Linked DNA regions of Homo sapiens: all the other regions are linked to region 1. Evidence: fine-mapped expression QTL. A gene starts in region 1. Each other region holds a variant in brackets. All regions are shown on one strand. Distances are from middle to middle. Region 1 holds the start of RNFT1 (ring finger protein, transmembrane 1). Region 2 overlaps PRR11 (proline rich 11). Region 3 overlaps RPS6KB1 (ribosomal protein S6 kinase B1).

Evidence for each region. PIP is the estimated chance that this variant, and not a neighbour inherited with it, causes the effect.
Region 2: its variant is the best candidate, but not a certain one, in a credible set for the expression of RNFT1 in monocytes after LPS (Quach 2016, PIP 0.69).
Region 3: its variant is the best candidate, but not a certain one, in a credible set for the expression of RNFT1 in whole blood (INTERVAL, PIP 0.88).

What each region holds. Positions count from the first base shown.
Region 1 is chr17:59,960,296-59,968,476 of GRCh38, reverse strand. RNFT1 (ring finger protein, transmembrane 1) reads left to right here and starts at 3,737. Exons shown (of 9, transcript NM_016125.4): 1 at 3,737-3,869; 2 at 5,193-5,650; 3 at 5,861-5,937. The coding sequence starts at 3,814. RNFT1-DT (RNFT1 divergent transcript) reads right to left here and starts at 3,381. Exons shown (of 4, transcript NR_110815.1): 1 at 3,289-3,381; 2 at 2,010-2,074. It also overlaps the pseudogene TBC1D3P1-DHX40P1. RefSeq lists an enhancer at 3,367-3,636 and a silencer at 3,667-3,796.
Region 2 is chr17:59,176,695-59,184,875 of GRCh38, reverse strand. The region is part of intron 2 of PRR11 (proline rich 11); the gene reads right to left. It also overlaps the pseudogene SPDYE22P. Among named protein-coding and RNA genes, the nearest start is that of PRR11, 25 kb to the right of the region's middle. RefSeq lists an enhancer at 1,997-2,498. The variant C/AAAAAAAAAC (reference allele first, on the strand shown) is at 4,357.
Region 3 is chr17:59,916,126-59,924,306 of GRCh38, reverse strand. The region is part of intron 4 of RPS6KB1 (ribosomal protein S6 kinase B1); the gene reads right to left. Among named protein-coding and RNA genes, the nearest start is that of RPS6KB1, 27 kb to the right of the region's middle. The variant G/A (reference allele first, on the strand shown) is at 4,141.

The DNA.
Region 1 (8,181 bases):
CAATCTAGGACACTTAACCCTACTGATTCTATTTCATAACCTCTCCAATCTCATTCTTCTTCTTGAATCCCACTTCACTGACAAGTTCAAGACCTCATCTTGTTCCTGAACTACTTATAATAGTCTCCTAATGGAGCTTGCACTGCTACTATCAGCATATGAATTTTCTGAAAAACACAAATCCAGTCACACAATTCTGTTGCTTAAAACTCAATAGCTTCCTTTTGGCCATTAGAATAAACTAAGTGAGGCCCACAAACTCATTTTCTAGCTCATACTTACCTGACTTATCTCTTACTACTCTATCCACTCTACTCTTCCAAATACGAAAAACACTCTTTAAAAGACCATGGTATTTCAATACCACCATTTTCCATATAATGTTTCTATCTGCATTGCCCTGTTACTGCTTCTGTCCTGGTAAATATCAACTTATTCTTAAGATTTCATCCAGGAGGCTGAGGCACTAGAATCACTTGAACCCAGGAGGCAGAGGTTGCAGTGAGCCAAGATTGCGCCACTGTACTCCACCCTGGGCAACAGAGCAAAACTCTATCAAAAGAAGAAAGAAAAAAAAAGATTTCATCTTAAATATCACAAATTTAATAAAAGATTTCTTCCCTGACAAAGTTAAATGCTTCTACCTTTTGCTTCCATTGCATCTCACAGAACCTTCAATTATAGTGTTTTCTCCAAAATACTGTAATTATTTGTTTGCAGGTCTAAACATTTCCATCACCATGAGATGGCAACTTTTCTTTTTCTTTTTTTTCTGAGATGGAGTCTTGCTCTGTTGCCCAGGATGGAGTGCAGTGGCATGATATTGGCTCACTGCAACCTCTGCCTCAGGTTGAAGCAATTCTCCTGCCTCAGCCTCCTGAGTAACTGCATTACAGGCGCGTGCCACCATACCTCGATAATTTTTGTATTTTTAGTAGAGACGGGGTTCCACCATGTTGGCCAGCCTGGTCTTGAACTCCTGACCTCAGGTGATCCGCCTGCCTCACCCTCCCAAAGTGCTGGGATTACAGGCGTGAGCCATTGTGCTTGGCCCTAATTTTTATGTTTTTAGCAGAAATGGAGTTTCACCATGTTGGCCAGGTTGGTCTTGAACTGCTGACCTCAAGTGATCTACCTGCTGTGGCCTCCCAAAGTGCTGAGATTACAGGTGTGAGCCATCATGCCTGGCCCGAGACTCTTTATTATGTCTCTCTCTCCAACATCTAGTATTATTCTTAACACTCAGTAAGTACTTGGAAAATGCTTTTTGAATTAACCAATTAAAATTAAAATGTCTATTTCCAACAGTCCAGATGCCAGTGGAAAGAAAATTTATCAGATAATAGCCTGTCACCAAGTCAAATCTTCTCATCAATTCAGTCCTTTCTTTCTTCAAATATGTCACTTTTCAGTCAAGTTACTTGGGTGAAATGCAGCTCCAAGTGCACTAATAAACTTTAAATATGGACTAATATACCTGCAGTGTTATGAGTATGTCAAAAGGAGAATTTTTTTTTTTTTTTTTTTGAGACAGGGTCTCACTCTGTTCCCAGACTGGAGCAATAACGGCTCATTGCAGCCTTAATCTCCCTGGCTCAAGGGATTCTCCCACCTCAGCCTCCTGAGTAGCTGGGACTACAGGCCCTTGCCACAGTGCCCAGCTAATTTTAACATTTTTTTCTAGAGACAGGGTCTCTCTATGTTGTCCAGTCTGCTCTCGATCTCTTGGGCTCAAGCGACCTTTTCACCTCAGCCTCCCAAAGTGCTAGGATTATAGGAATGAACCGTAGTATCTGGCCAAGATGAGAATTTAAACACTACATTTGGTATTCTAAATTTACAAATGTACCAAATGTACTAAAATTATCAGTGTACTAATACATATTGGTGCTGCATTGTGGCTGTGGCTGAATTATGTTATATTCTGTTTTTTTTCCTGTTTCCTAAATGTTCACACATTTTGAAGTTTAAAAATATCCACGACATAGTTGAAATGTTAGAATACTTACACATATCTCCTCGGAAAATTCACTATAGTCTGGAGCCTGGCTCTCACCCTTACTGAACCAGAAATCTGTCAGAAAGATTTAAATTAGTAAGCACAGAGAGACTTAAGTATGCCTTCTACCACCGCCGACCACCCCTACCCCCACCCCCAACAAAAAAAGAAAGCCAATGTGTTTTTTTTTGAGGTGGGGGTCTCCTTCTGCCGCCCAGGCTGGAGTGCAGTGGCACGATTTCAGCTCACTGCAACCTCCGCCACCTGGGTTCAAGGGATTCTCCTGCCTCAGCCTCCCGAGTAGCTGGGATTACAGGCGCCCGCCACCAAGCCCGGGTGATTTTTGTATTTTTAGTAGAGACAGGGTTTCGCCATGTTGGCCAGGCTGGTCTCAAACTCCTGACCTCAAGTGATCCTCCCGCCTCGGCCTTCCAAAGCGCTGGGATTACAGGGGTGAGCCACCACGCCAGGCCTAAACCTTTTTTTTTTTAGACGGAGTGTCGCTCTGTTGCCAGGCTGGAGTGCAGTGGCTAATCCCGGCTCACTGCAACCTCCGCCTCCCGGGTTCAAGCGATTCTCCTGCCTCAGCTTCCCGAGTAGCTGAGATTACAGGCACGCACCACCACACCCGGCTAATTTTTGTATTTTTAGTAGAGACGGGGTTTCACCATATTGGCCAGGATGTGGCCACGATCTCTTGACCTTGTGATCCACCCGCCTTGGCCTCCCAAAGTGCTGGGATTACAGGTGTGAGCTACCACTCCCCTCCTCAGCTTCGTTTTCTTAATGACCTTTTAATTTTAGAACAGTTTTAGATTAACAGAATTTATTTTATTTATTTATTTTTTGAGACCGAGTCTCACTCACTCTGTTGCCCAGGCTGGAGTGCAGTGGCACGATCTTGGCTCACTACAAACTCCACCTCCCGGGTTCAAGTGATTCTCGTATGCCTCAGCTTCCCGAGTATCTGTAGCGGGGATTACAAGTGTGAGCCAACGCCCCCGGCTAATTTTTGTAGTTTTAATAGAGACGGGTTTCACCATGTTGGCCAGGCTGGTCTCTACCTCCTGAGCTCAAGTGACCCGCCCGCCTCGGCCTCCCAAAATACTGGGATTACAGGTGTGAGCCACTGCGCCCGACCTAAACTTCGTTTTCTTAATAACCTTTTAATTTTAGAACAGTTTTAGATTAACATAATTATTTTGAGGGCAGTAGGGTCCTCTATACCCCACGCAAGACAGGTTTTTCAACTCTAACTTCTACTTCCACCCCACGCAGACTCTCCGCACCTCTCTCCTCTCATCTCGGGTTCTGACAAGGCCTGATCCTCACAGCCCAAATTCACGATTGTGAGGAAAGGTCAGCTCAGACCAAACGTCACCGCCCAGACAGACACAACTAGGTCAGGCGTCAAGCTCGCGGACATCCGAGCCCGGAAACCCTAACACTCCTCCAGGGGTAGGTTCTCCAAGCCTGAACATTTTTAACCTCAAAACGCCCAGGATCTCGGAGGCGTGTGGTGGATGCCACATAAATACATAACACATAACAACGACTTATTATTTAGCGCCAGGCCTGAAGGCCGTTCTCAGGCGCAGCTCGCTTGTTCTCGCTGCCAAAACACCCCGGCAGCCGTGAGCTCTCCACTCGGCGCGGTGCGGGGGCGGGGCTAGGAGGTGGAGCCGGGGCAGGGCGCGCGCGCGCGCGTGAGAACGTCCGGGGAGCGCGCGCGCCGCCGCCGTTGCCGCCGGGCTGAGAGAAGAGCTTGCGGGGTTTGCGGTTGATGGCCCCGACTGAAGGGCTGGAGGCGGTGTATGCCGCTGTTCTTGCTGTCGCTCCCGACACCTCCGTCCGCTTCTGGTCATGAGAGGTTAGGCCTGGGGGAAGCGGGCAGAGGAGGAGGCGGCGAGGGGCCGCGGCGCAGGGGGCTCTGGGGAGAATAGGCACTCGAGGCTCGGACGTGGGTGGAGAACTCTGCCCTCGGAGATTCCGGAAGAGTTGTGTTGAATTTTCTTCCCTTTTTTCTCCTCTTTCTTGTCTGTGCATGAAGGAAAGTGGGAGGGTTCTATGTTATTTATAGAAAAGACACTGAAAGCCTGCTGTCCAACGTCGCTCTTCAGTTTTGACGAAATAACACCCGTGGCGTCGGGGCCTCGGTGAAAGCCTTTAGTGAAAAGCACTGAAACCCAAACCGCCAGACACGGTGACTGCACCACTGTTCAGTCCTGGGAGTGAAATAGAATGACACAGAACATTCCCTGACGTTAACTCTAGCCTCCTCCTAGACAAACGGGAAAAGCACGGCAGTGTGGGATAGCCTCTGCGTTTTGTCAGCTGGGATTCCGACTCTGTTCTTCTGTTTCTAGGAGGTCCACACTGGATCATTTATTAGAGAGATCTTTCTCTGCTAGAGTCCTCTTTCCTCACACCCCTCCCTCCGTAATACACACACCACCGACGGTGGCATTTTATTGGGCGGACTGTGTAACTGCTTATTCAGACTAAAGAGTTACCTAGCAATTACGTGGTGACTCTCCAAAGTATCTATGCTTTAAATGTATTTAGGTAACATTCTTTTGCGCGGGGAGGTAATATTATTGGTGGCACCATTAATTATTGGAAACTTTATGAGCTTTGGGAAAGCTGCTTGAGCAGAAAATCTAATTTGTAGGTCACCTAAGTGCAGTGTTTATTATTAGTTACCTATGATGATAATAAGGCATTAAGATTTAATGTTGTTTTTTTTCCTAACATTTCCAACCATTAAAAAATACTGGCTCACTCTTCCTTATGAAACTTCTTTGATGTAGAATCTACATCAGAGATGAAACTGCACCATTTGGGAAAAGTAAATGTACCAGAGTACCCAGTGAGGACTGGTGCTCATTAACATCTGCTGGGTACCCATACTTCATGACTGTTTTGCGGATGCCTTCTGCCATTAGAGAACTGGAAGCATTTGCAGCTCAACTTTTTTTTTTTTGGTGCAAATGTTCCCTAAAAGATCATTTGTGTAGGGCAGCAGAGCCTTGGCATTAAGGGAGAAGGGAGGAGTCCAGTGATAAATAACCTGAAAATTCATCTGTTGTGATTATTTGCTACTCCTTTAGTGAATAAAGGATACCCAGTGAGGAATATACTGCTGGTATTTAACTGCCTGTTTACTTAGAATATCTTTTATTTGATTTTTTAGGAGACAGAGGCCTGAAGCAAAGACATCTGGGTCAGAGAAAAAGTATTTAAGGGCCATGCAAGCCAATCGTAGCCAACTGCACAGTCCTCCAGGAACTGGAAGCAGTGAGGATGCCTCAACCCCTCAGTGTGTCCACACAAGATTGACAGGAGAGGGTTCTTGCCCTCATTCTGGAGATGTTCATATCCAGATAAACTCCATACCTAAAGAATGTGCAGAAAATGCAAGCTCCAGAAATATAAGGTCAGGTGTCCATAGCTGTGCCCATGGATGTGTACACAGTCGCTTACGGGGTCACTCCCACAGTGAAGCAAGGCTGACTGATGATACTGCCGCAGAATCTGGAGATCATGGTAGTAGCTCCTTCTCAGAATTCCGCTATCTCTTCAAGTGGCTGCAAAAAAGTCTTCCATATATTTTGATTCTGAGCGTCAAACTTGTTATGCAGCATATAACAGGTAGGACATAATAAAACATTGACTTGTTTTCATTCCTAAATTCAGTTAATTTTCTTTCATTATTGGTAATCTACTTAATGCATCCAGTTACTTATTTTCTGTGAGCTTTTATTATTGTATATGTTTATTTTTAATTTGTGTCATTGTTAGCTTATATAATCCTCTTTGATTTTTTTTTCTTTCAATTAACTGGAACTTATTTTCTAACAGGAATTTCTCTTGGAATTGGGCTGCTAACAACTTTTATGTATGCAAACAAAAGCATTGTAAATCAGGTTTTTCTAAGAGTAAGTATAACAAGCAACTAAAAAATTATTAACTGTTTCTCTCCATAGATTTTAGAGAAATAATTTTGAGAGAAATAGGAAATAACTTGAAAGAAATAGGAAGTAATAGGATATATTGTAACATCCACGTTATGTTAAATTTGTTATCTAAATCCTGGAATAAATTATCTCTCCTAATGCTGAATTCCTTCACCTTACCTTCTTTGTAAGAAAAAAAAATTGGTTACTGTTAAAGTAGTAAAAAGGATTAAAAGAGTTAGAACACGGTATCTGATCTGATTTGGCAAGTCCCTTCATGTTGTATCAGTTACTTTGACCATAGTAAGTAAGACCATCATCATGAAAAACTTTTAGTGGCTGGGCATGGTGGCTCACACCTGTAATCCCAGCACTTTGGGAGGCCGAGGCGGGCAGATCATGAGGTCAGGAGATTGAGACCATCCTGGCTAACACGGTGAAACCCTGTCTCTACTAAAAATACAAAAAATTAGCTAGGTGTGGTGGCATGTGCCTGTATTCCCAGCTACTCGGGAGGCTGAGGCAGGAGAATCACTTGAACCTGGGAGGTGGAGGTTGCAGTGAGCTGAGATCGCACCACTGCACTCCAGCGTGGGCTACAGAACGAGACTCCATCTCAAAAAAAAAAAAAAAAAAAAAGACCTGGGCCAGGCACAGGGGCTCACGCCTGTCATCCCAACACTCTGGGAGGCCCAGGCAGGCAGATCACCTGAGGTCAGAAGTTTGAGACCAGCCTGGCCAATGTGGTGAAACCCCATGTCTACTAAAAACACAAAAATTAGCTGGGCGTGGTGGCGCTTGCCTGTAGTCCCAGCTACTTGGGAGGCTGAGGCAGGAGAATTGCTTGAACCCGGGAGGCAGAGGTTGCAGTGAGCCAAGATTGTGCCACTGCACTCCAGCCTGGCGACAGAGTGAGACTCCATCTCAAAAAAAAAAAGAGAGAAAATGAAACCCAAGGAATTTTTCCATAACATAAGTTACACGAGCCCGTCATATAAATCATTGGGAAAAAGAGGATGAGTTTCTAAAATTTCACCTTAAGGCAACTTTAAATGGCTATGTCTGTGTAAAGTATCATGCATTCTGACCTGGAAATTTATAGTTAAACCTATCAAACTAGAAAAATCTTAATGATTTAAAATTAGTAAAACTTCATTAAACTTGACTTTAAAAGTGAGATTACAGGCAAGGCACAGTGGCTCATGCCTGTAATCTCAGCACTTTGGGAGGCTGAGATGGGCAGATTGCTTGAGCCCAGGAATTGAAGACGAGCCTGGGCAACATGGCAAAACCCCATCTCTACAAAAAATACAAAAAATTAGCTGGGCGTGGTGGCACGTGCCTGTAATCTCTGCTATCTGGGAGGCTGAGGTGGGAGGATTGCCTGACCCCAGGTGGTTGGGGCTGCAGTGAGTTGTGATCATGCCACTGCACTCCAGTCTGGGTGAAAGAGTGAGACCCAGTCTCAAAAAAGTAAAAAAAAAAAAAGGGAGATTACAACTACTTGGGAGGCTGAGTTGGGAAGAATGCTTGAGCCTAGGAATTCTGAGCAATGTGTCGAGACCCCATATATTAAAAAAGTGAGATTAAAACATTAATTTATTAAATTCTTATAATCTGAGAATTTAAAAAATATAAACCTTGACAAGTGAGTCAAGGTTAAAATGCATTTTGAAATTTTCTTTTGTGGGTGGGTCCATTTTTTTTCTGAGACGGTGTTTTGCTCTGTCACCCGGGCTGGAGTGCAGTGGCGTGATCTTGGCTCACTGCAACCTCTGCCTCCTGGGTTCAAGTGATTCTCGTGCCTCAGCCTCCTGAGTAGCTGGGATTACAGGCACGTGCCACGGCGCCTGGCTAACTTTTGTACTTTTTTTAGTAGAGACAGGTTTCACCATGTTGGGCAGGCTGGTCACAAACTCCTGACCTCAAGCGATCCGCCGACCTTGGCCTCCCAAAGTGCTGGGATTACAAGTGTGAGCCACTGCCCCCGTCCTGGGTGGGTCCTTTATGTCAGCTTGTAGAAGACCTGGCTTCTTTTTTTTTTTTTTAATTTAATTTAATTTTCTTTTTTTTTTTTTTTTTTTGAGAGAAGACTTGGCTTCTTTGAAACATAGGTAATGTTTTTCATACAGTGAAGAAACTTGTATTTTAAACATTTGTTTAATATAAGAGTTCTGTTTGGTCACTAAAGTAGTATAAAACAGTAACTGTGATGATTATGTACAG
Region 2 (8,181 bases), 780 kb after region 1:
AAAAAAAAAAAAAAAAAAAAAAAAACTTAATCAGGCATGGTGGTGTGCCAGAAGAGAGAAGAATATGCAAACCAGGTTTGAAGATGGGTTAAATCAGAGCTTTTCATTCCACAAAAGAGAACTTTTAATGGGGTCAGAACATTGATCTTCTAATATATGAAAGCCTGTTAACTAGGAGAGAGATAGCAAACTGTTTTGTCAGGACCCACCCAGCTCTGGCGGTTTAAAGCGTCATGAATGGAAATTTGAACTCCAGAAAAGCAGAGCTTCCTACCAATGGGACTTCCATAGCAATGGGATCTGCTTCCTCATTCAGTTTGGGCCTTTCCCATGAGCAAGAGACTCCTAGGAGAGCCACAGCCCATTAGGAAGCCATATGGGAACTCACTCACAGGTTCTTTGTTTATTTTTTTGAGACGGAGTTTTGCTCTTGTTGCCCAGGCTGGAGAGCAATGGTGCGATCTTGGCTCACGGCAACCTCCGCACCCCGAGTTCAAGTGATTCTCCAGTCCCCGCTCCTGAGTAGCTGGGATTACAGGCACCCGCCACCATGCCTGGCTAATTTTTTGTATTTTTAGTAGAGACGGGGTTTCACCATGTTGGCCAGGCTGGTCTCACACTCCTGACCTCAAGTGATCCACTTCCTTTGGCCTCCCAAAGTGCTGGGATTACAGGCGTGAGCCACTGAGCCCGGCCAGGAACTGACAGGTTTTTTGGATGGTCTCTGAATGTCATCCAACTCTTTTATTTTTTATCAAAAAAATTTTTTTTGACACAACGTCTTGCTGTGTTGCCTAGACTGGAGTGCGGTGGCAAGATCATAGCTCACTGCAGCTTCTAAGTCCTGGGCTCAAGCGATCTTCCTGTCGCATGAGTCTCCCAAGTAGTTGGAACAAGGTGCCAGCCACCACACCTGGCTAATTTGGTTTGGTTTTGTTTTTTTAGAGATGGGGTCATGCTATGTTGCCTACACTGGTCTTGAACTGCTGGCCTCAGGCAATCTTCCTCCCTTGGCCACCCAAAGTGCTGGGATTACAAACATGAGCCACTGTGCACAGCTGAGATTTTTCGACTTAGTCTTTTTGTACATGCGATATTTTATTCATAGAATCCATAAATGGTAGGGAAATTTCTGAGTTCAGAGCAATACATATGATACAAAACTTAATATATAGACTAGAGTTTCTTAGCCGAACTGGAGGGGCTGGCCTTAGGTAATCCATGGACTCCCTGAAACTGGGGACACCATTGGAAATATGAGTGAGCTCATGGGCAGTTTCCTATGATTTTCAGGCCTCAAAATGTCTCTTGGACTCAAAGATGCCTTACGGCAGAGGACACGTGTACCCCCAGTATAGAATCTCGGACAGTGAATGTCAGTAAACATTCGGCAGAAAAGCTCTGCCAAATTGAGTGCTCTGATGTGACTTTTTCATCAAGTCAATGTTCCTGGGATCTCTTGTATATGATAATCTCACACTTGTAAGGTTTCATAGTTTCTGCTTACCCTAGTTTTCTTTCCCACCCTCCCTCTCCCACCAGACTGGACTCTGAAATGGGCATGTACAGAGAAGAGGAGACCCCAAAATGCTTCAGGCTTTGAGTGGAGAAGACACAGCCTCTGCTGGGACAGGGAACAGATGGATGCGGAGACCCTGAAGATGCTTTTGGATGGTGGTCTGAGGTTGGGACAGTGGCAGGAGATACCATTCACCCAGGATCTCCAGGACAAGAGACCAGCCTGGCAGTTACATGTGTTTTTCTTCAAACTGGTTGCCAGGTTGGAATGACCAATGACATCAGAGATTCCAACCTTCCTGATTGGAAGGACTGGACTCCATGGGCATCTGGGAGCTCAAGTGGACAACTGCATCTTCTCAGAGCTGTTCTCCACTCCTGACTTCTCTCAGCCTCGAGAATTGATAACACACCTTCTGGGTCCTAGCAGAGTCCAGAAGAAGGCCTTGGATAGAACAGAGACTAGGTTCCGTGGGTTGGGATAGATTTTGGGAAAGATCATGACCAGCCATCAACCGCACCCCCAGGATGAGGAGCAGAGCCCCCAGCTGAGCACCTCAGGGTACCCCCTCCAGGAGGTGGTGGATGATGAAGTGTCGGGACCATCAGGTGAGGGGACTGGAGGAAGAAGAGGTGGGATAGGATTGACTAAGGTGAAGGAAGGGGGCCAGGTGCAGTGGCTCACACCTGTAACCCTAACACTTTGGGAGGCCGAGGCGGATGGATCACCTGAGGTCAGGAGTTCAAGACGAGCCTGGCCAACATGGTGAAACCCCATCTCTACTAAAAGTACAAAAATTAGCCAGGTGGTAGTGGTGCGCGCCTGTAATCCCAGCTATTTGGGAGGCTGAGACAGGAGAATCACTTGAGCCTGGGAGGAAGAGGTTGCAGTGAGCCAAGATTGTGCTACCGCACTCCAGTCTGGGTGAGAGAGTGAGACACTGTCTCAAAAAAAAAAAAAAAAAAAAGAAGGGTCAGAGGTCAGGAAGGAGAACCTGAGGAGGGTGTATGGGAAGAATGGAGAAATTCAGGCCAGGTGCAGTGGCTCACACCTGTAATCCCAGCACTTTGGGAGGCCAAGGCGGGCAGATCACTTGAGGCCAGGAGTTTGAGACCAGCCTGGTCAACATGGTGAAACCCCATCTCTACTAAAAGTACAAAATTGAGCTGGGCATTATGGCAGATACCTGTAATCCCAGCTACCTGAGAGGCTGAGGCATGAGAATAACTGGAATCCGGGAGACAGATGTTGCAGTGAACTGAGATTGCACCACTACACTCCAGCCCGGGCGACAAAGCAAGATTCTGTCTCGAAACAAAAAAAAAAAAAACCAATAACAAAAAAACAAGCAAAAAAGGAGGGACTCAGAGAGCCAGGGACCAGGGAAGGACATGAAGAAGTGTTCTGAGGACAGAGATACGGAAGAATGGGGAGGGGAAGGAGCGGCTCATGGGGTTGAGCAGAGGAGAAAGCCAGAAAGATGGCTTGGAGAAGCCAACAGTCTGCAAGGCTGGGGAGGATGGAGAGTGGTTTGGGGTTGGGGTCGGGGTCGGGGTCTAAGGTGATCAGTTGCAGAAGCATTACATGGTGGCCTGGTTTCTTTACTCAGCCCCTGGGGTAGATCCCAGCCTCCCATGTAGGTCCCTTTGCTGGAAAAGGAAGAGGGAGTGGTCGGACCAATCTGAGGAGTCATCGGAGGAGGCGCCAGAGAAGGAGCTCGCCCCTGAGCCTGAGGAGACCTGGGTGGCGGAGATGCTGTGTGGGCTCAAAATGAAGCTGAAGCTGAAGCAACGGCTAGTGTCATTCGTGCTCCCTGAGCACCATGAGGACTTCAACAGGCTGCTTGGTAGGAGGACACCCCAGAGAGCACCTCCAATCCTGTTCTTTTAAAAACGAGGAAAACTTTCAATAACCACACTTTTCCAATGGGAAAAATATGCCCCCAGTGGGTGAGCTCTCCATGCGGGAGGACTCAGAAGTGATCACTCATGAGGGACGCTTAGGAGATGATAGAGGATTAGGCTGGAGTTGATAAAGTTTGGCTCTCGGGATAAGAAAGCTTGGTTTTGGGCTGGGCGCTGTGGCTCACGTCTGTAATCCCAGCACTTTCGGAGGCCGAGGCGGGCGGATTACGAGGTCAGGAGATCGAGACCATCCTGGCTAACATGGTGAAACACAGTCTTTCTAAAAATATAAAAAATTAGCTGGGCGTGGTGGTGGGCGCCTGTAGTCCTAGCTACTTGGGAGGCTGAGGCAGCAGAATGGCGTGAACCCCGGAGGTGTTGCTTGCAGTGAGCTGAGATCGCGCCACTACACTCCAGCCTGGGTGACAGAGAGAGACTCTGTCTCAAAAAAACAAAAAAACAACAAAAAAAGAAAGTTTGGTTTCGGGACAGGTGCTGTGGCTGATGCCTGAGATCCCAGCACACTGGGAGGCTGAGGCAAGAGAATTGCTTGAACTCAGGACTTTGAGGCTGCAGTGAGCTATGACTGCACGACTGCACTCCAGCCTGCATGACAGAACAAAACCCTGTTTCAAAAGAAAACCAAAGGCCGGGCGCAGTAGCTCATGTCTGTAATCCCAGCACTTTGGGAGGCTGAGGCGGGTGGATCACCTGAGGTCAGTTGTTCGAGACCAGCCTGACCAATATAGTGAAACCTAGTCAATACTAAAAATACAAAACTTAGCCGGGTGTGGTGGCGCACGCCTGTATTCCCAGCTACTTGGGAGGCTGAGACAGGAGAATCTCTAGAACCCGGGAGGCAGAGGTTGCTTTGAGCCGAGATAGCACCACTGCACTCCAGTCTGAGAGACTGAGACCCTGTGGCAAAAAAAA[C/AAAAAAAAAC]AAAAAAAACAAAAAAAAAAAAACAAGGACGGGCCCAGAAGTCAGGAAGGAGCACCTGAGGAGGTGTGTGGGAAGAATGGAGGGACTGAGGCAGGGTGCAGTGGCTCACACCTGTAATCCCAGCACTTCGGGAGGCCAAGGCAGGCGGATCACTTGAGGCCAGGAGTTTGAGACCAGCCTGGCCAACATGGTGAAACCCCATCCCTACTAAAAGAACAAAAATGAGCTGGGCGTTATTACGGGCACCTGTAATCCCAGCTACTTGGGAGGCTGAGGCAGGAGAATCACTGGAACCTGGGAGACGGAGATTGCAGTGAGCCGAGATTGCACTACTACACTCCAGCCTGGGCGACAAAGCAAGACTCTGTGTCAAAAAAAAAAAAAAAAAAAAAGGAGAGACTCAGAGAACTAGGGATGAGGGAAGGAAATGAGGAAGTGTTCTGAGGACAGAGAGATGGAAGAATGGGGAGGGGAAGGAGCGGCTCATGGGGTTCAGCAAAGGAGAAAGACGGAAAGATGGCTTGGAGAAGCCAGCAGTCTGCGAGGCTGGGGAGGATGGAGAGTGGTTTGGCGTTTTGGGTCTGGCTCTAAGGAGTTCAATTGCAGAAGCATTATACAGTGGCCTGGTTTCTTTACTCAGCCCCTGGGGTAGATCCCAGCCCCCTGTGTGGGTCCCTTTGCTGGAAAAGGAAGAGGGAGTGGTCGGACGAATCTGAGGAGTCATCGGAGGAGGAGCCAGAGAAGGAGCTCGCCCCTGAGCCTGAGGAGACCTGGGTGGCGGAGACGCTGTGTGGGCTCAAGATGAAGCTGAAGCAATGGCGAGTGTCACCCGTGCTCCCTGAGCACCACGAGACTTTCAACAGGCTGCTTGGTAGGAGGACACCCCAGAGAGCACCTCCAATCCTGTTCTTTTAAAAAAGAGGAAACTTCCAATAACCACACTTTTCCAATGGGAAAAATATGCCCCCAGTGGGTGAGCTCTCCATGCGGGAGGACTCAGAAGTGATCACTCATGAGGGACACTTAGGAGATGATAGAAGATTAGGATTAGGTTGGCAATTGGGATAAGAAAGCTTGGTTTTGGGCCAAGTGCGGTGGCTCACGTCTGAGATCCCAGCATGTTGGCAGGCTGAGTTAAGAGGATTGCTTGAACTCAGGACTTTGAGGCTGCAGTGAGCTATGATGGCACCACTGCACTCCAGCCGGGGTGACAGAGCAAAACTCTGTCTCAAAAGAAAAAGCACAGTAGCTCAAACCTGTAATCCCAGCACTTTGGGAGGCCGAGGCAGGTCAGGAGTTAGAGACCAGCCTGACCAACATAGTAAAATCTGATCTCTACTAAAAATACAAAAATTAGCCAGGCGTGGTAGCACACGCCTGTAATCCCAGCTACTCAGGGGACTGAGACAGGAGAATCGCTTGAACTCGGGAGGCCGAGGTTGCAGTGAGCTGAGATCATGCCACTGCATTCCAGCCCGGCCCACAGAGCGAGACTCCATCTCAATAAATAAATAAATAAATCAATAAATCACAATAAAAAATCAAAGAAAGCGGCTTCAGCTGTGCCCTCTGAAACTTAATGTCTCTTGCTGACTTTTCTAAACCTAAGTGTCTCCATCCATAGAGGGGGATACCTAGGCCATAGTCACACCCTGATGTGACTGTCTCATGAGGAAATGATGGGAATTCCTTTATGACTCTGCAGTGGTCCCTCTGTGTCTGCTGGGAGGGCATTCTGGCTTTTTGCCAGCTCTACATCCTGTAGATTCTCACACCCAGGGCCTCCTTCAGCCTCTTCTCAGGGGAGTCTCAGAGCGGGAGCCTCTCTCCCTTGCCCAGTGAAAGTCATTCTCCTCTTTCCCATCCACCTCACCTGTGGCAGCAATCCTGAGACTTCCCCCTGGGAGACACACTTCTCCTTGCTGCCCTGCTGCTCCCACGGAAACCCTGTCCTGCTTTTCAAGCTGACATCTACTCTCTAATCACAGAGGATCCTGTCATTAAAAGCTTCCTCGCCTGGGACAAAGATTTGAGGTTGTCAGACAAGGTAAGTTTGTTCTCCACGGAACCGTGTTCCTGCTTCAGTGCACTGCCAGGGGGAGGGTGCAGCTTCTAAACCCACAGTTCCTCTCTTCTCTCCCTCCAGCACTTCCCACCAGATGCTCCCACAGTCTTCTTTTCTTTTTGTGAGACAGTCTCGCTCTGTTGCCCAGGCTGGAGGGCAGTGTCTCAACCTTGGCTCACTGCAGCTGAAGCCTCCTGGGTTCAAGGCATTCTCCTGCCTCAGCCTCCCAAGCAGCTGGGATTACAGGCATGCACCACCATGGCTGGCTAATTTTTGTGTTTTTAGTAGAGATGGGGTTTTGCCATGTTGACCTGGCTGGTCTTGAACACCTGACCTCAGGTGTTCCGCTTGCCTTGGCCTCCCAAAATGCTGGGATTACAGATGTGAGCCACTGTGCCCCTCTGGCTCCCACAGTCTTGAGTCTTGGTGCCCACCTGTTTTTTTTTTTTTTTCGAGACAGTATCTAGCTGTGTTCCACAGGATGGAGTGCAGTGGCATGATCACAGCTCACCACAGCCTCTAATTCCTGGGCTCTTGCAATCCTGCCTCAGCCTCCTGAGCAGTTGGGAGTACAGGCACATGCCATCATGCTCGAATAATTTTTATACAAACAGTCTTGCTATGTTGCCCAGGTTGTTCTAGAACTGTTGGACTCACTTGATCCTCCTGTCTCAGCCTCTCAAACTTCTGGGATCACAGGCTTGAGCTGCCACTCCCGGCTATTCTTGGTCTTTTTATTATTTGTCAGCATCTCCCTCAGGACTCTGCTGGTCTCTTGCTGAGTGAATGAGTGGCCCCTGCCTCTCCTATGGGTCATTTGGGATCTGAGCTCTGGGCCACAGTCAGGCCGCAGCCCTGAAGCTCCTAGCCCCTTTACTCTCAGTTCTTTGGGACAGTTCTCTGCCTGGCACACAAAAGACCCTCCTGATACCAGCCGACCTAGACACACTCCTTCAAAGATCTCATCAGAGCCCACCATCCTGGGAGCATCACCAACATGCCTTCCTCCAGCTTCTCGGATTTGCATCCGACCTTCAAATACCCCACCACCCCGCAATTTCCACATGAGCACAGTCACCCCAACACTCAGGTCCCTTCTCTGATGGGCAAACCCTCCCTAGACCCCCATTCCACTGTCTCCACGATCTTCCTCTCCCAAGATGTGACCTCTCCCTTTCTGTGTTCCTTTCTCTCCACCAGTATCTCCTGGCTATGGTCATAGCATATTTTAGCCGCGCCGGCCTCTTCTCCCGGCAATACCAATGCATTCATTTATTCCTGGCTCTGTGAGTGGTTTGCTTCCTCCTATCTGTCAATATCCAATACCCTGGGACAGCGGGGGAAGTGGGATTCCAGCCTTTCATTTATTCTTGCACCTATTTGTCCTCTTTACTCTGTGTACAAAAAAGAGGATTATACTATCTTGTTTTTAGACTGCTGTTTCTAAAAAGAAACTCAGGCTGGGCGCGGTGGCTCACGCCTATAATCCCAGCACTTCGGGAGGCCGAGGCAAGCAGATCACTTGAGGTCAGGAGTTTGAGACCAGCCTGACTAACATGGCAAAACCCCATCTCTACTAAAAATAGAAAAATTAGCCAGGCATGGTGGTGTGCACCTGTAATCCAAACTACTCGGGAGGCTCAGGCAAGAGAACCCGTTGAACCCAGGAGGCAGACATTGCAGTAAGCTAAGTTTGAGCCACTGCATTCCAGCCTGGGCAACAGAGCGAGACTTTTTCTCAAAAAAAAAAAAAAAAAAAA
Region 3 (8,181 bases), 44 kb after region 1:
CCCAGGCTGGAGTGCAGTGGCATGGTCTCAGCTCACTGCAACCTCCGCCTCCCAGGTTCAAGTGATTCTCCTGCCTCAGCCTCCCAAGTAGCTGGGACTACAGGCACCTGCCACCACACCTGGCTAATTTTTGTATTTTTAGTAGAGATGGGGTTTCACCATGCTGGCCAGGCTGGTTTCGAACTGAGCTCATGATCCGCCCGCCTTGGCCTCCCAAAGTGCTGGGATTACAGGTGTGAGCCACTGCACCCAGCGAGAAAAAGATATTTAAGTAATTTTAGACTGCACACCCTTAGTGGCCTATATGTAAGCACACAAAAAATTGCAAAGAAATATTAAATCAAACTTAGTAGGTTTGTAGCTGGAAATACTATTGGTATTACAATTTTCATTATGCACATATTGTACAACTGAACAAATGAGTGCGTTTATGTTGTTACCAGAGTTCTTCTCACTGTAGAAAAAAAGGATATCCAAATATGAACTGAAAGAAGAATGTGGTCGGGCACGGTGGCTAACACCTGTAATTCCAGCACTTTGGGAGGCCGAGGCAGGTAGATCACAAGGTCAGGAGTTCAAGACCAGCCTGGCCAAGATGATGAAACCCCGTCTCTACTAAAAATACAAAAATTAGCCGGGCGTGGTGGCAGGCACCTGTAATCCCAGCTACTCAGGAGGCGGAGGCAGAAAACTGCTTGAACGCAGGAGGTGGAGGCTGCAGTGAGCCGAGATCACACCACTGCATTCCAGCCTGGGGGACAAAGCGAGACTCCATCTCAAAAATAAAAAAATAAAAATAAAAAAGAACGCTATGGAATTGGACTAGAATTAGGGCTAACAATATGAAGCACTTTGGGAAACCGAGGCAGGCGGATCACCATGTTGGCCAGGAGTTTGAGACCAGCCTGCCCCACATGGAGAAACCTCATCTCTACTAAAAATACAAGAATTAGCCACGTGTGATAGTACACACCTATACTCCCGTTACTCCAGAGGCTGAGGCACGAGAATGACTGGAACCTGGGAGGCAGAGGTTGCAGTGAGCTGAGGCAGCCTGGTGTCCAAGGGTGTGGTGAGCCATGATCATGCCACTGCACTCAAGCCTGGGCAACAGAGGAAGAACCTGTCTCACAAAAAAAAAAAAAGACCAGGTGCGGTGGCTCATGCCTGTCATCCCAGCACTTTGGGAGGCTGAGGCGGGCAGATCATGAGGTCAGGAGTTCAAGACCAGCCTGGCCAACATAGTGAAACCCCATCTCTACTAAAAATACAAAAATCAGCTGGGTATGGTGGCACGCACCTATCCCAGCGACTCAGGAGGCTGAGGCAGGAGAATTGCTCGAACCTGGGAGATGGAGGTTGCAGTGAGCCAAGACCACATCGTTGCACTCCAGCCTGGGCACCAGAGTGAACCTCCATCTCAAAAAAAAAAAACAAACAAATTTTTTTAAAAGAGAGTATAGGGCCAGGCGCAGTGGCTCACGTCTGTAATCCTGGCACTTTGGGAGGCCAAGGTGGCTAGATCACGGGGTCAAGAGATCGAGACCATCCTGGCCAACATGGTGAAACCCCATCTCTACTAAAAATACAAAAAATTAGCTGGGCGCGATGGCGCACGCCTGTAGTCTCAGCTACTCTGGAGGCTGAGGCAGGAGGATAGTTTGAACCCGGGAGGCAGAAGCTGCAGTGAGCTGAGATCACACCACTGCACTCCAGCCTGACTTCATCTCAAAAAAAAAAAAAAAAAAAAAAAAAGGAGTATAAAAAAATCTTTACAGACTAATGACAATATAGAAAAAATACAGAAAAAATAGAAAAGTCTCCATTTTATAATCACTACAGTACAGTAATATTTGGGCAAGAAACAATCCAGATAAAACCATTAAGTAAAGATTATTATAGGACAGAATATTCACACCGTTTCTATCATTCCACAGATCACTTGTTAACTACAAAAGGAAAAAGAGGCCGGGAACGGAGGCTCAAGTCTGTAATCTCAACACTTTGGGAGGCCGAGGAGAGCGGCTCACCTGAGGTCAGGAGTTTGAGACCAGCCTGGCCAACATGGTGAAACCTCGTCTCTACTACAATTACAAAAATTAGGCAGGCGTGGTAGGAGGCACCTGTAATCCCAGCTACTTGTGGGGCTGAGGCAGGAGAATCGCTTGAACCCAGGAGGTGGAGGTTGCAGTGAGCCAAAATTGCACCACTGCACTCCAGCCTGGGCAACAGAGTGAGACTGCTTCTCAAAAAAAAAAAAAAAAAATGCCCTTATTCTTAGGAGATGTATAGATGAAATTAGGGGTGAAGTGCTATGAAATCTGCAGTTAACTCTCAAATTGTACATGAGGAAAATTTATTAACTAAAATTTATTAACTAAAGGGCTTAGGGCCAAAAAACAGGCATTGTAGGAATCAAGTAAGTCAAAAGTGAGAAAGTTATTGTTCTATGAAACCGCAATATTTCAGAGGTGGAGAACACCTTTGGCCAAAGGTTCTAAAATGTACAGTGGGAGGTGAACTAATGCCGTAGGCAATAGTATTTTGCTTCCATGGTATATTTTTGCTGCAACTGGTAGGGTCGGGTGATGGCTGTTGATAGTCTTTTCCTCACTATTCCACTCTAAGCAAATACCTGAATGGTACCATTCCTATAAGAAGTAAACAGTCCCAGGAGAACTAATAAATCCAGACAGAATGTCCAGATTGAAACAACTCACTTAAGGGGATACCTGGTTCTACTCTGATTTCATCTTAAAGTCTGGGGGAAGAGGTATACACTTACCACACACTCAGGTCAGAGGGGTTAGTACTCTGCCTCCAGGATAATTAAAATCAGAAGGAAGGAACTCAAAGGGAGCCTATAGTCATCTTACTTGGGGATTTAGAAATGAAAGCCCTGAACTTAACCCTAATGACATCTTTATTTTCATTATTTTTGCTATGAGCTTGCTTTCAAGGACAAGGAAGGAGACAGTATCAGATCCTCTAGCCAGGATTAAGAAAAGAACCCCAAGAATGGGAAACAATGGCAACCAAGCAAAAGCAGAGGCAAACAGCTTAGGTCCTGGATCCCTGGGCCCCAGAATGAGGCCTGACACTTAGCAGTAATTAAGTCTATGGATTTCCCAATATACCACCCCACCCACCATGAGTGGGGAAAAAAAACAAGCACTCTTTTTTTCACTAGATACCTGTGCCAAAAACATACTTCACCCAAGATCTAATTATGCCTAATATGGTCAGGCCTGATTATCCGACATAAATAACACATCACAAGGAATGAATCAGTTAAGAATCTTGACCAGAGGCTGGGCGCAGTGGCTCACGCCCATAATTCCAGCACTTTAGGGGGCTGAGGTGGGCGGTCACTTGAGGTCAGGAGTTTGAGACCAGCCTGGCCAACATGGTGAAACCCTGTCTCTACCAAAAGTACAAAAATTAGCCAGGCGTGGTGGTACACACCTGTAGTCCCAGCTATTTGGGAGGCTGAGGCCCTAGAATCACTGGAACCCAAGAGGCAAAGGTTGCAGTGAGCTGAGAACGCTCCACTGCACTCCAGCCTGGGTGATGTAGTGAGACTCTGTTTCAAATAAAAGAAGAAATCTTGACCAGTACTTCTTTTCACATTTCTGGGACAAGCACTATTATGCTGCCTTCAATTCTATACCTAACATGTTTTACAGATTAAAAAATCATTAATCTAAAACAATTCCAACAGGAAAGTCAAATAGCTGATATCAATGTCAACCCACTGAAGAAGAAACTGATGTGAAGAATAGCTAGATGGCTTTTTAAAGACAATTACCAATAAAATTGTGGTCACAGTATTTGTTCCTCAGCTTTCAAACTGAGGAGTCATTTATACTGCTTAAATAAAAATCAGCAAGAAGGACCAAAGTTTTACAAGTCTTATAATTTTTTTAAAAAGTCACTTTGATTGTCTTTAAAGTAGTTCTCCACTGGAACTTTTGTTTTAAGACAGTGGAGGCCGGGCGCAGTGACTCATGCCTGTAATCCTAGCACTTTGGGAGGCCAAGAAGGGTGGATCACCTGCGGTCAGGAGTTCGAGACCAGCCTGGCCAACATGGCAAAGCCCTGTCTCTACTAAAAATACAAAAATTAGCTGGGTGTGGTGGC[G/A]GGCACCTGTAATCCCAGCTACTCAGGAGGTTGAGGCAGAAGAATCACTTGAACCCAGGAAAAAAAAAAAAGACAGTGGAATCTTTTCAGTAATCAATCCCAAACAAGAATAAGAAAACAAACACACACATAATCCATCAGTAAAACTAGAAGACATGTGGAATCCCACACCTGAAAAGACAGAGTGGGGATAAAGCAATGGTCCATGATGTAGCAGAGTGGGGTAAGATCAAACCTAAGTGCCTGCAAAGGGGAATACACAAAAGAAGTTGAATCTATCTATAGAACCCCAGCAAGGTTCAAACATTAGAGGAAAAATTAGAAGGAAGGGAAAAAATTAAAGGAACTGAAGACTGTAGAAGGCAGAAGGTGGAGTGCTAAAAACAGGGAGATCATCTACAAGTCTGTGTAAGGAACAGACAGACCAAAAAGGCTCCCATCTCCATACTAAGTCGAAGAACTAACCCTAGGAGAGTTAAATTCCCCGGGACAAAAAAAAAAAGTGAAAGATTAGATCCACAGAGTAAAGTACTAATGTAAAAACTCGAGTTTAGTGAAAGTCCGCGTGTTGAGAGGTAAGATCTCCATCTTCTCTCACTCAGCTCCAGAATGCTTTTTCCAGGCAAATGAATGGCAGAACTTTCTTAGCACCAACTGATCCTCCCCAGAAAAAAAAAGATCTACAGACAATATTTACTTATTTATTTATTTGAGATGGAGTCTCGCTCTTGTTGTCCAAGCTAGAGCACAATGGTGCAATCTTGGCTCACTGCAACCTCCACCTCCCAGGCTCAAGCGATTCTCCTGCCTCAGCGCCCCCAAACCAGCTGGCCAGGCTGGTTTTGAACTCCTGACCTCAGGTGATCAACCTGCCTCAGCCTCCGAAAGTGCTGGGATTACAGGCGTGAGCCACCACACCCAGCCCTACAGACACTATTATTTGAAGTTGTTGATCAAGTGCCAGCTAACCACTTGACTACCCTGCAGAGAAGCTTACACACACAGAACTTCTGATCAGCTTTTCAGAGTTCTACTCTTAAATATGAATAATCAGGCCAGGCGCAGTGGATGGGTTATTGAGGCCTAGGTGGACAGATCACTTGAGGTCAGGAGTTCGAGATCAGGCTGACAACATGGCGAAACCCTGTCACTACTAAAAATGCAAAAATTAGCCAGGCAGGGTGGCACATGCCTGTTATCCCAGCTACTTGGGTGGCTGAGGCACAAGAATCGCTTGAACCCAGGAGGTGGAAATTGCAGTGAGCCGAGACTGTGCCACTGCACTCCAGCCTAGACGACAGAGCAAGACTCCAACTCAAAAAAAAAAAAAAAAAAAAGAATAATCAGTGAATGACACCAGACATCTAAAGAAGGCCTCTAACATGGAACAAAGTGACTAAAACTGACTAAATCAAAGTCAAAGAAAACAGAAAGTCAAAAAAGAACATGCGTAAAACAAAAGAACATTTCAAATAATTATAATTAAACTCTCAGAGAGGCTGGGCGTGGTGGCTCACACCTGTAATCCCAGCACTTTGGGATGCCGAGGTGGACGTTTTGCCTGAGGTCAGGAGTTCAAGACCAGTCTGGCCAACATGATGAAACCCGATATCTGCTAAAAATACAAAAATTAGCCAGGTGTGGTAGCGGGCACCTGTAATCCCAGCTACTCAGGAGGCTGAGGCAGGAGAATCGCTTGAACGCAGGAGGCAGGGGTTGCAGTGAGCCAAGATCGCACCACTGCACTCAAACCTGCACGACAGAGTGAGACTCTTGTCTCAAAAAAATAATAATAAACATTAAAAAAAAATAAAACTCTCAGAGGGGTAAGAGAAGATATTATACTCATTAAACAGGTTGCTATAAAACAAAAACAACAGAAAGAATTCTGGAGAATCACAAATACAACAGCTTTAAAAAAAAATTTAGTCAAATGGCTGGGCACAGTGGCTTACGCCTGTAATCCCAGCACTTCAGGAGGCCAAGGCGGGCGGATCACCTAAGTCAGGAGTTCGAAACCAGCCTGACCAACATGGAGGAACCCTGTCTCTTCTAAAAATACAAAATTAGCCGGGCATGGTGGCACATGCCTGTAATCCCAGCTACTCGGGAGGCTGAGGCAGGGGAATCGCTTGAACCCAGGAGGCGGAGGTTGCGGTGAGCCAAGATTGCGCCATTGCACTCCAGCCTGGGCAACAAGAGCAAAACTCCATCTCAAAAAAAAATTGAGTAGAAGAAAGTAAACAAGACAAAGAAATGGAAACGTGGAAAAGATAAGAAAAATTAGATGATCGGTCCAGGAGATCCAACATCCAACTAATTGCAATTCCAAGAAGAGAAAACAGTGGGAAGGAAATTACCAAATAAATCACATAAGAAAATTTCCTAGAACTGAAAGACTAAAGCTTTAAGATTAAAAGAATAAAAATAGGCTGGGCACAGTGGCACATGCCTGTAATCCCAACACTTTGGGAGCCAAAACAGAACAACTGCTTGAGGCCAGGAGTTCCAGGCCAGCCGGGGAAACACAGGAAGACCTTGTCTCTACGAAACATTTTAAAAATGAACTGGGCGTGGTGGCATGCATCTGCAGTCCTAGCTACTCAGAAGTTGTGGCAGGAGGATCGCTTGAGCCCAGGAGTTACAGGTTACAGTGAAGTATGATCACACCACCACACTCCAGCCTGGGAAACAGAGTGAGACCCTGTCTCTTAAAAATAAATAAATTAATTAATTTAATTAAATAGGCCGGGCGCAGTGGGCCATACCTGTAATCCAATCCCAGCACTTTGGGTGGCCGAGGCGGGTGGATCACTTGAGCCCAGGAGTTCAACACCAGCCTGGGCAACATGGTGAGTGCCCATCTCTACATTTTTTTTTATTAGCCAGGCCTGGTGGTGCGTGTCTGTGGTCCCAGCTACTCAGGAGACTGAGGTGGGAGGATAGCTTGAGCCCAGGAATTTGAGGTTGCACTGAGCTATAATTGTGTCACCGCACTCCTGTCTAGGTGACAGGGCGAGACCCTATCTCAAAAACTAACTAAATAAAAATAATAATCAAAGTCAAAGCAACACACATCACTATAAAAACTTAGATCAGAAATAAAGAGAAAATCTTAAATATTTCCACAGAAAAAATAGGCCATGTGTAAACGACTGGGAATCAGAATGCCAAAGCACTTCAACAGAAACTCTCAAGAATAGAAGAAAACTGAGCAAAATTCTAAGTGAAAATAATTTTCAACTCCAATAACATAAACAATCAAGTAAATAAAAATGTAAAGAAATTCTCAAATATGCAATATGGATATATTTTTATTATAAATGTATCTTTATATACCTTGTCTGAGGGAGCCACTAGTATAGTGTCACCAAAACAAGGACATAAACTAAGAAAAAGGGAAAAAATGAAGATATGGGATCCAGGAAACAAAAGATCCAACACTGAAGGAGCCAAGAGGATTCCAGGGTTGTGGTGAAGAAAGAGTCCAGTCATAACAGTTGTGACTAAAGAGCTACCACTCCAGATGGGAACAGGTGGATAGAAAGTTCCTAAGATATGCCTCTGGGAAATAAATGGAACTGATAGATTATCTTATAAGCCTGATCAAAGAACATTAGACTGAAAGGTGTTTTACAAAGTTGTTGGAAGACATCAGAGGACAATAGTAGATTCAAAGAAAGCAAAACAAAATGAGAGGATGAGGATAAAGGAGGGTGAAGTAAACAAGAAACAAATCCTTAACTCGCATAAAAGAAAGTTAATACTGCCAGGCTCGGTGGCTCACGCCTGTAATCCCAACACTTTGGGAGGTCAAGGCGGGCCGATCCCCCGAGGTCAGGAGTTCGACACCAGCATGCCAATATGGCGAAACCGCATCTCTACTAAAAATACAAAAATTAGCCGGGTGTGGTGGTGGGCGCCTGTAATCCCAGACACTCAGGAAGCTGAAGCAGAGGAATCGCTTTAACCTGGGAGGTGGAGGTTGCAGTGAGCTGAGATCACGCCACTGCACTCCAGCCTGGGCAACAGAGTGAGGCT